Homo sapiens: one gene and its partners. The protein of the gene in region 3 purifies or fractionates together with the protein of the main gene of each other region. This does not show direct contact. Each region holds a gene or a part of one and is shown on either strand. Other genes may lie near its edges.

The links.
Region 1: the proteins of TPRX2 (region 3) and KDM6A purify together in Homo sapiens (affinity purification with mass spectrometry, with the first as the bait; one large-scale study listed by BioGRID). This does not show direct contact.
Region 2: the proteins of TPRX2 (region 3) and ZNF609 purify together in Homo sapiens (affinity purification with mass spectrometry, with the first as the bait; one large-scale study listed by BioGRID). This does not show direct contact.

The regions. Positions count from the first base shown.
Region 1 is NC_000023.11:45,068,563-45,072,211, reverse strand, and holds part of KDM6A (lysine-specific demethylase 6A), read right to left. Parts: intron 2,634-3,649; coding exon 1,855-2,633; intron 1-1,854. UniProt on the Homo sapiens protein: Histone demethylase that specifically demethylates 'Lys-27' of histone H3, thereby playing a central role in histone code. Demethylates trimethylated and dimethylated but not monomethylated H3 'Lys-27'.
Region 2 is NC_000015.10:64,677,049-64,680,697, reverse strand, and holds part of ZNF609 (zinc finger protein 609), read right to left. Parts: intron 2,583-3,649; coding exon 2,216-2,582; intron 514-2,215; coding exon 338-513; intron 53-337; coding exon 1-52. UniProt on the Homo sapiens protein: Transcription factor, which activates RAG1, and possibly RAG2, transcription. Through the regulation of RAG1/2 expression, may regulate thymocyte maturation.
Region 3 is NC_000019.10:47,857,679-47,861,427, reverse strand, and holds the start of TPRX2 (tetrapeptide repeat homeobox protein 2), read right to left. Parts: upstream 2,194-3,749; 5' UTR 2,182-2,193; coding exon 2,157-2,181; intron 1,316-2,156; coding exon 1,146-1,315; intron 627-1,145; coding exon 1-626. UniProt on the Homo sapiens protein: Transcription factor expressed after fertilization required for zygotic genome activation (ZGA), a critical event in early embryonic development during which the developmental control passes from maternally provided mRNAs to the expression of the zygotic genome after fertilization.

The DNA of each region.
Region 1 (3,649 bases), on a different chromosome or scaffold from region 3:
AAAAATAAAATATAAAAAAGGATGTAATTTCTGCCCTAGTCTATGTCAGAATAACAACTAAATAGTTAAAATTTGACAGGAAATAATGAAATAGAAACTAACAGAAATAGAAACTAATAGAAAATGAAACAAAGACCAGCTGGGCACAGTGGCTCACGCCTGTAATCCCAGCACTTTGGGAGGCAGAGGCAGGTGGAACACTTGAGGTTGGGAGTTCAAGACCAGCCTGACCAACATGGAGAAACCCCGTCTCTACTAAAAAATACAAAATTAGCCAGGTGTGGTGCTGCATGCCTGTAATCCCACCCAGCTACTTGGGAGGCTTGAGGCAGGAGAATCGCTTGAACCTGGGAGGCAGAGCGTGCGGTAAGTTGAAATCGCGCCATTGCACTCCAGCCTGGGCAACAAGAGCGAAACTGTCTTAAAAAAAGACAAGAAAAGACAAGAAAAGACAAGAAAAGACAAGAAAAGAAAAGAAAACACAGACCAAAAGGTATTTTTAACACTCAAACTCTTTAAAGAAAAATGACTATAGTGTAATTTATAGTAAAGTTCTAGTGTCACAATTAAAGCGATAAATTTAAATTAATTGAAATTTCTTCTCCATACTCCATTGCTCCTACCCCACATCCCTCCCAAGCAGCAAACTTATATATAAATAAAATTTAATTTCACCTCAATCATTCGTCAGTGACAAACATTTAACGGTAGACCCAGGATACCTTCTAATAAAATAATCTGAACAACAGAAAAGATAATCACACTTTTACATAACAATAAATAAGACATATAAGTACTAGCAACTGCAGGAAGAGGTTTATATGGCTATAAATAAGAATTGTTTTGAACTTTAAAATGTAAAAGCTATATTAAATGGTCAATGTAGCCAAACTAGAACTAATGTTTATAATTTCTATTTATAGAATGGTTATTTTCTATATATCATGACAATCTACAACCAAAAAAAGATCTTTTTAAAATCTACTATATGTCTGCTCAAACTTAACATTTAATGTATCAGAAAATATTACAGAATTATTTGTTTGTTCCAGTTATGTTAACTAAATTTCATTCAAGATTTAGTCACTTATAGAGGACAACAACTACAAGTAAATGAGAAAAATTATATATGTGTCATATACAATGAAAAGGCCAGTAAGAATCTATATGTCCTCCAAATATCAGAGAAAGATGATGCTGCCTGATCCTTTGATTCTTCTTTTGTGGGACAGAGGAGGTTCATTTCTTCATAAATTTCTGAGGCCCTGCCCTTCCTAGACTAGCAGAATATGTCTGGCTCCTTCCAGAATGGCTGACAGTCTGTCATGTCTCTCCACTGCCCATTGCCCCTGACCTCTTCCTTCCTCTTCTGCCTGCTTTATAACCTCTTCTAGATTCAAACAGTCCAGTTTTCTCAATTGTAAGCAAAGACTAGCCTTGATAAGTGATGGGGTCCATTCCTAGCCTAACATTTAATAGGCTCTGATAAAAAAAAAAAAAAAACCCATAGGGTTTTCCAGCCTTGCTGTATTTGGCCAAATATGATTTAACCCATTCTCTTGTTTAAATCCCCAGAGCGAAGTCAATCACACTGAAGCTGACAACCTAGTAACCAGTAGAGGGCAGTAACAGCACAATCAGACACACCCACTCAAAATAAGCAATTTACAGGAATACTTCTCACATCTGATTTGACTACAACATCTAAGCAAAATAAAGCTTCTGTCAAACTCTTAGATGAATGACTACACCATCTTTTGCTTACTTCCCATATCTTAAACGGTCCAAATTTCAGCATTCTGATCATGCCAGTAAGTCAAACATTTTCACTTTGATGAACTTTCCCACACTAACCTGCATGCCTTCAGAACTTCTGCTGAGCTGGGGTATATGGACACAGACATTGATGGTATGATCTGTGGACTAGGTTTGTGGTTAACCAGAAGCAGATCTGTTTTCATGGGGCTCTGAGATTCTTCCATCCCTTCTCCATTAATTGTGTGTAGCCCACTGTGAGGGCTGTTAAGGCTGGTAACACTGTTTGTGGTTGTCTGCTCAGTGGATTTTGGAGAAGGTGTTGCTGTTGAAATGGCTGAAGATGGTGAAGAGGCAACAGAGTTATCAGTCTTTGTATGAACAGCTGGGTGGATGTTATTGACTTTGTCACAGGTTCCAGTACCCACATTGTTATTGGCTTTTCCCATCAACAAGGCAGAGAGCTGAGGATTGTCTGAACTTAGTAAACCTGGTGACTTAGAATCTCCATGGCTAGGACTGCAAACAGCATCTGCCGTCATCTGATGGACATGATTAGGAAGTCCCTCGACACTGGCAGTGCTGTTAGGTGTCTCTCCAGTGTGCCTGCTTGTTTCAGGCACCGTCAATATGTTTCCTGAAGGCTTGCTCTCTTTGGTTAAGGTAATGCCTTGTTGTCCACCTGAGGTAGCAGTGTGAGAGGAGAGGTGATTGAGAGCAGCCCCCTGTGTTACTGAATTGCTAGGCAGGGTGGGATGTCCGTTCTGATTCTGAATACCAGAGCCAGCTGCCTGGAGATGCTGGGAAGGCCCAGTGGAAGAGAGAGGTCGTTCACCATTAGGACCTGCCGAATGTGAACTCTGACCTTTGTGAAGCCCCTAAAAAGAAAGAAAAATAGTTTAAATCTAATATTAAGCAAACTCAGAATATACAGAATTTAAAATATTAAAGAGAAAAGCCACTAAAAATAAATATCTAACTGTATAAGATAATTTGACCCAAGTCCTAAAGTTATCAAAAAGTACCTGCAACTTAGCTAATCAGTATTTAACATCTTTAGAGAAATTTTTCTTCCTTGCTATCTAAAATGACTCCATTATTAGTGTAGAATAAACTACTTCAGATGAAGCATTACAAATTTTAAGTTCCAATATACATATTTTCATCTCTAAAATCAGACATGGATAGACATATATCATCATTAATAATTAAAAGCTATGACCATGGATCAACATAAACCAACTCTCACTGGTCTGTGATCTGTTAAAAGATTAATATAGAAAGTGAGTTCATTAAGCCTTTAAAATTATCATTAAAATATAATCTTCTGTAATTCAAATCCTATTGTTAAAGTAGCTATCCTCAAAATTAAGGGCAGAACTATTAAATCTATGAAAATATTTCAAAAAATACCTAAAGTTTCCCCATCTATCCATCCACACATATTTAGAAGACTAGATAGGCTTGGTGCAGTGGCTTATGTCTGTAATCCCAGCACTCTGGAAGGCCGAGGCAGGAGGATCGTTTGAGGCCAGGAGTTCGAGACCAGGCTGGGCAACACAATGAGACTCCGTCTCCACAAAAGAAAAAGAGAGAGAGAAAGGGAAAGGGAAAGGGAAAGGGAAAGGGAAAGAGAAAGAGAAAGAGAAAGAGAAAGAGAAAGAGAAAGAAGAGAGAGGAGAGAGGAGGGAGAGAGGGGAGAGAGGGAAGGAAAGCAGGCAGACAAGCTAGGTGTGTTGACAAGTGTGCCTGTAGTCCAGCTACACAGGAGGCCAAGGTGGGAGGATCTCTTGAGCCCAGGAGTTTGAGCCAGCAGTGAGCTAAGATGGTGCCACTGTACTCCAGCCTGGGTGACAGAGCAGAACCTTGTGTCTCTCTTTTTTTTTTTTTTTTT
Region 2 (3,649 bases), on a different chromosome or scaffold from region 3:
CAACCACCCCACAGCCTCCTCGATCTCTCTCCTGAGAAGTTTTATCACTTATCTGGAAAGGAAACCAGAGACACAAAAGCACTATAGTGAGACACATATGCATACAACCACACACACACACACACACACACACACAAGTGAGATGCCCAGGGTGCCACCTTATGACCCCTAAAAGTGCAAGATACCTAAGAATAAAGAAGATGCCCTGGGGGCTGCCAGTGTCAAGTCAGCCAAGCTGCACTGTGGTCAGGACCTGAACTTGCCCACCTTCTCCCAGACCCTGGATCTGGCCTTACTAGTCTTTGGGTAACAGCCAGCATCACTGTACTTTTCTTACCGTGGGAGACTTGCTCTTGTAGTGACTGGCATGCTGCTGCAAGATGTCCAGGGCTTTGGACTCTGAGCTGGATTTACAAGTCACACTGGGGCTGGCTCGTGCCTTGTCAGCATCTTCACCACCTGAGACCTTGCTGCCATATGGGGAAAAAGAGTAGCTGGAAGGCAGGTAGGAACCTGTGGAAGGAGAAATCAAACAGTCAAAGAGATGGGAGAGGTAGAGGAAACTCTGCTTTAGTGAGCTTGATTGGGTGGGCATCAGCTTTCCTAGGCACAGGCTGAGGTATTTTCTAACATAGTGTCTTTGGCTGAGACTGTTGGCTTGACCTTTCTTTACTGAGCTCTACAGGAAAAATTAGCTAAGGGATATTAGGAACATGGCCCTGTTTCCTGCTTCCAACTTCCATAGATCTGATACTGTTCTTTGAACTGGTCTCAGATTCATCTTGGAGAAGTGATATGATAAAGTGGAAAGATCACACTTATCTGGAGTCAGAGCCTTGGGCTCAAAACCTTACTCTGAGACTTACTAGCTTGGTAACCTTGAGCAAATAAATAACTGTTTTGAGCTTCAGTTTCTTCATCATCAAAAATGAAGATATCAATACTTATTACTTAAGGTGATAGGGAGGATTAAAAAAGATAATGTCTATAAATCTCAGAGGACAGCGCCTGGCTCAGGGCGAGCACTCAACAAATGCAACTATGATTTTTATATTGATGGGTGTGAGTGACAGGGATAAAGGAACACCTCAAGGGTAAGAAATTTCCTATTTCTGTTTGAAAAGCTTATTTCTATTTAGAGTGTGCTTTATAATAATGTCACCAGAATGTTGAGACTATTTAGGCTGCTGTAGGAAGCTGGAGGCTCTAAGGAGTGAGGCTAAAGCAGTGCCCTTCCACCCCAGAAGCACCCCACATGGTTCTTTGGGCAACAAAACGAGTAGAGTTAAATAAGAGCATTTTCTTCTAACAAGTTAAAAAACATTTAAGGCCGGAGCGGTGGCTCATGCCTGTATCTCAGCACTTTGGGAGGCCAAGGCAGCCGGATCACCTGAGGTCGGGAGTTCAAGACCAGCCTGACCAACACGGAAGAACACCGTCTCTACTAAAAATACAAAATTAGCCAGGAGTGGTGGCACATGCCTGTAATCCTAGCTACTTGGGAAGCTGAGGCAGGAGAATCGTTTGAACCCAGGAGGTGGAGGCTGTGGTGAGCCGAGATCACGCCACTGCACTCTAGCCTGTGCAACAAGAGTGAAATTCCGTCTCAAAAAACAAACAAACAAAAAACATTTAAACACTATAAAGAGCTTGTCTTTTCCAAGCTGAATCTAGCAGGACCTCCCCCCAGTCTGACTTCAGATGGCTCTTCTTACTTGACAGGTGAACATGATCTGGCAACTGAATCCATGCATTGTTATGGTTTGCATTTTATTTGTTCTTTGTGTCTCTCCACTATGATTAAGCTGTAAGCTCCGGGAGTGGAAGGAACTCAATGGCTCTACTTCTTTTGTACCTCCCACAGTGCCTAGCACACTGCAAAACGTGGAGTATATGGTTTACAAATTCCAGCTGAGGGGAGACAGCAGTGACAGAGAAGGAGTTTTACCTTTAGTTAGCAATGAAAACTGACTACAGAGACAATCCTTGAGCTGGAGCAAGGGAGAGAGAGGTAGTCACACAGACTATCATTATGGGTCATTCAAGGAACTATGGGTTATGGTGGCCACCTCACAGAATGACTCAGTGAAAAAAGGTCCGTCATCTAAGCGAGCCTCAATATGCCTTGGGGCTGAGCAAGAAAACTCTGGATGTGAAATCTGTGCTTCATTCCCCCTTCCAGTGAATGGAATAGTGCTGGCACTTGGTGCTGTACCTGGGTAGTTCTGCATCATCACAGCAGGCATGCTCCGGTAGCTGGGGTGGTTGGGGTCGTAGGACTGACTGTAGGAATAGCCGTGCATGTAGGGGATGTAGGACTGGTGCTGGGTAAGTGGGGAGGACACAGGCACATGGACACTTGGCCGGGGCTCCTTGCTCCCAAGGCGAGACTCCTCTGACGTGGGCAGCTTGCAGTCACTACTTGTGCTTTCCTTCCCATCTTCCTTGGGGACAGAGTCCTTACTCCGACTCCTTTCCTCCTTCAATTTGCGGTCCCGCTCCTCCTTCCACCGCTCATCCTCTGACTTGATGTCTGAGTACTTGGCAGGATAAACATATGTCCACATCCGGGGCTCTGCCTCCTACAACAATCACAGAACAACGACTGGGTGTTGTACAGATAAGACAGATATACTTCAAGCCCAAGGTCCCAGTAGAACCACCAGAGCAGATAATTAGTACTAGACACCTGGGGCAGAGTAGGATTTTGGCCTCTACTGATCTTGTTTATAATCCAACTCTGCTCCCTTTTGGTTAAAAAGCCCCCGCCCCCACCTCTGCACCCACCCACAGGGAACAAGATGGGGCAGGGGGAGAAAAGGAAAATCCATCCATGCATCAGTGGATGTTTTCTAGGTAAGAACAAGCATTCTGGGAAAACGACTGAAATAGGAGAGGCTGCCCCTTCCAATATGTTTAGATTGTTTCACTTTTTCAGAGCACGCTCAGGGACTGGAAAGCTTATAAGTGACACTCAGATCAGAGGAGGGAGGGAAGCATAACTATTATACCAAGAGGGAAGGGAAGACATTCTAAGTCTCATGAGCAGAGCAAGATATGAGATTCCAAGTTCCTAGTTCTAACTCAACCTATAAAATCCTTGTTAAAGAAACTCAGTAACTGAGTATACTTTGGACCTACTCTAAAAAATAGAGAGACCATCAATAACTCATTTCATAGGAACCAAACAGTGGAGGAAACACGGACAAGGAATCGAGATACCTGGGTTCTAATCCTGGCTCTGCTAGTGAGGTCTCAAGTAACCCCAGACAAATTAAGCTAACTTGTCTGGGCCTTTCCTGTCAAATGGAAAAAACACCTGCTATGGATATAAAAGTGCTTTTTAAAAAACATTAATATGAATCCCTGTGCTTTGGGAGGCTGAGGCGCGAGGATTGCTTGAGGCCAGGAGTTCAAGACCAGCCTGGGCAACATAGTGAGACCCCTCTCTACAAAAAATTAAAACATCATCTGGGTGTGGTGGCATGCATCTGTAGTCCTGGTTAATTGGGAGGCTGAGGCAGGAGGACTGCTTGAGCCTAGGAGTTGGAAATTGCAGTGAGCTATGACTGCATCATTGCATTCCAGCCTGGGCAACACAGAGGGACTCTGGTCTCTATAAAAACATAAAAATAAAAAAAATTACGAC
Region 3 (3,749 bases):
AGTGAGGATTCCTCGAACCGGTCTAGGAGCGGGAGCAGCTTGGTGAAGTCAGGGTATAACTGGGTGTCTGGCGACAAGTTGGAGGCATAGGGGCTCTGAGGCCACAAGGCGCCTGGGGCTGGGGTTGGGAGTGATCCTGGGCCTGGCATCAGGGTTCGGCCTAGGACTGGGTCTGGGATTGGGCCTGGGCAAGAGATGGGGGCTGGTATTGGACCGGGGATCGAGACTGACAGTGGGCCTGACATTGGGCCTAAATTCGGGGCTGGGCCTGGGACTGGGCCTGGGATCTGGGCTGGGCCTGGGATAGGGGCTGGGATTGGGCCAGGGCCTGGAGCCGGGACAGCCTTGAGGCCCTCCTGTGTTCCACACTCAGGGCCACCCCAGGTCCGGGGGAGGCTGTAGATCTTCGGTTCTGCTGCTGGGAGGACTCCCCAGGGGCCCGGCTGAGGGGAGATCCAGGAACCCCTGCCCTGCGGGAACTCAGGACCCCCAGGGAAGGAGGCAGCGGCTACAGGGACTAGGGGCGCAGCGCGGGCTCCTCGGCCTCTCTGCCCAGGGACGCGCTGGGGCTGCTGCTGGAGCCGCCGCTCCCGAGCTAGTTTGGCGCGGCGATTCTTGAACCACACCTGGGGGGCAGAGGGGACAGGGAGAAGGTGTGAAGGAGGGACTCGCGCGGCCCGGGTGAGCCGCTCGGGGGCGGCGCCGGCCTCAAAACTCTCCCGGTGTTCACCCCCACCCCGCACCCACCATATGAGGGCCCCCGGCTCCCAGGCCTGGAGAAGGGAGGGAAGAGGGAGGGGAAAGTAGGGGGAGGAGGGTGGGGTGGGAGGGGAGGAGCCGGGTCTGCCGCCCAGGTGCCCGGGGGGCCAGGGAGGGTTCCAGGGGAGGGACCGCGGGTTCTCACGGGTGCCTGAGGTCCGGGCACCGGGAGACCCCGTGGGGGACAGCCTGGGCCGATCATGTGGGCGAGTTTGGGCTAGCATAGAGTTGGAACAGGACTCAGGATGCAGCCCGGGTCTACACTGGCGGGACCCCTTGCGTGGCAGGGCGGGAGGTGGTCGGGCGGGCCAGGCCCCGGTGAGTGACAGCGGTGGGGAGGCTCCTTGGGGTGACTGGGGCGGGCGGGGTGGGGGTGGGGGTCAGACCTGCAGCTGTTGCTCCCTGAGGCTGAGCATCTCCGCCAGATTCAGTCGCTGGTCGTAGTTCGGGTACTGGTCCTTCTGAAAGTAAAATTCTAGCACTTTCTGCTGGCTTTCAGTGTAGACCGTGCGCTCCTGCCGCTGTCTCCTTGGAGGGTCCAGGGCCAGGGGAGGGCCTGGGGGTGGGAGGGAAACAGGTCACAGAAACCCCCAGGCAGCCCCCAGCCCCCCTAGGGACCCCGTCCCCTGCGCCAGGCCAGGAGCCCAGGCAGTGTGGGCTGGGGCGGCACCGCGGATAGCAGCCTGGTATCCAGACCAGACCTTGCACCTCTCTGGGCCTCAGGGTCCACATCTAGGAAATGGGCGCGATAACAGCTCCTGGGAAGGCAGGCAGCGTAGGCGCCTCACCTCGGAGCAGACGGGGCTGCCTCAGGCCTGCTCAGCCCTCCCCAGCTGCCCCGTCCCCTCCCATCCAAGGGTTATAGGGACCCTGACACTTGCAGGGGAGCCGCCACCTGCCCAGTCCTCTGCTCCACTCAACTGCATGGTTTAATTTCTTTCCTTCTTTCTTTTTCTTGGAGGGGATCTCGCTCTGTCACCCAGGCTGGAGTGCAGTGATGTGATCACGGCTCAAGTCAGCCTCCACTTCCTGGGCTCAAGGAACCCCCCGCCTTAGTCTCCCGAGTAGCTGGGACCACAGGTGTGCACCACGACCCCTGGGTAATTTTTGTATTTTTGCTAAAGACGGGTCTCCACTATGTTGGCTCGGCTGGTTTCAGAGTCCCGGGCTCAAGTGATCCTCCCACCTTGGCTTCCCAAAGAGCTGGGATCACAGGCGTGAGACTCTGCGCCCAGCTGCATGATTTTTCATTTCCCAGACACCACTAAGTTCTCCCCCGTCTGCAGGACAGGAAGCCGCCCGCACAGGCCCAGCCCTTCTCTGGCTGCCCAGATTTGCACTCTGCAGCCTCAGCCACAGGATCAGCCCAGGCCCCTCACACCTCTGTCCCTGCTCACCTTGGAGATGACCAGGGTCTTGCATCCTGAGTCCTGATCTGTTCCCAAACACAAGTGTGTACTGACAAGGGCTTGGCTCTTAAATCACTTCTCTGCTGTGCCCACCCTGGCCCACCCTGCCAGGACCCTCCGTTTCCCACCCTGCCCTGCAGTCCCGCCCCCTGGAGGAGTTGAATGGTGGATTAATCCCTCATCACTGATCAGGTACTGCCTGCTGAGCTGTGCTAGGAGCTGGGGAACCTCAGTGGACAACACAGCCTTGGTTTCACCCTCATGGGCCCTAGCCCAGGCGAGGTGGTATTCCACATGGGATCGGGGGAGTCAACATCATGACCTGTGGTTGGGGTCCCCATCTCAGGAGAGGCACCGCCAGCCAGCCCCCAGGAGTCATCCTTATTCCTTCCCAGGGCTGGGGCCCCACATGATCAATGCCAGCGAGTCTACCCACTCCTCCCGGCTCCCGGGCTGCCCGCCTTGTCCAGTCACCATCCCTCTCTCCTGGATGACCCCACAGCCTCCTCTTTGGTCCTTTGAGGCCACTCTGGCCCCTACTAGTCATTCTTGAAGTTTCCTGCTCCCCCAACCAGGAGGGGACACAGGTCTGATGGACATTTCCATGGACTGCTACTGATGTATGCAGGGGACCCATTACCTTGGTTCACACAAGTCAGGTCCCTCAGAGATGCATCTGCTGTGTCAGACCCCTGGCTGCCCTCATCTCCTCATAGCAGGACCCACATGGGTTCAGGGGTCAAGGAGATTGACAAGGCTCATGATCCAGGGAGCTAAAAATGACTCATGCAAGGCTGGGCGCGGTGACTCACGCCTGTAATCCTAGCACTTTGGGAGGCCGAGGCGGGCAGATCGCCTGAGGTCAGGAGTTTGAGACCAGCCTGGCTAACATGGCAGAACGCCGTCTCTACTAAAACTACAAAAAGAATAGCCGGGCCTGGTGGCAGGCACCTGTAATCCCAGCTACTTGGGAGGTTGAGACAAGAGAATCACTTGAACCTGAGAGGCAGAGGTTGCAGTGCAGCCTGGGTGACAGAGGGAGACTCCGGCCCCCTCCCAAAAAAAAAGAAAAAGAAATGACTCATGCAACCAATTTCAAAATTCAATAAAACGTAGACATTGTTACCACGGGCCTCGCTCATTGTTTTCACCTGCTACTTAGAGTTCTATTGTAGAAAGCAGCATCCCCAGCAATGATTCCTCATTGCACACATTGTCCGGCTTCATCTACAGGACATGCTGGGAACACAGTAGTGACCACAGAGATTTTGCACCGTGGCTATTTATTTGGCCAATAAAGACATAAGCAGATGAACAAGCTCACTGGTACTATTTTGTGAAGATAGACATTTAAATATAAGAAAGTTCTGCCGGGCGCAGTGGCTCACGCTTGTAATCCCAGCACTTTGGAAGGCCGAGGTGGGTGGATCACCTGAGGTAGGGAGTTCGAGACCAGCCTGACCAACATAGACAAACCCCATCTCTACTAAATATACAAAATTAGCTGGGCATGGTGGCACATGCCTGTAATCCCAGCTACTCGGGAGGCTGAGGCAGGAGAATTGCTTGAACCCAGGAGGT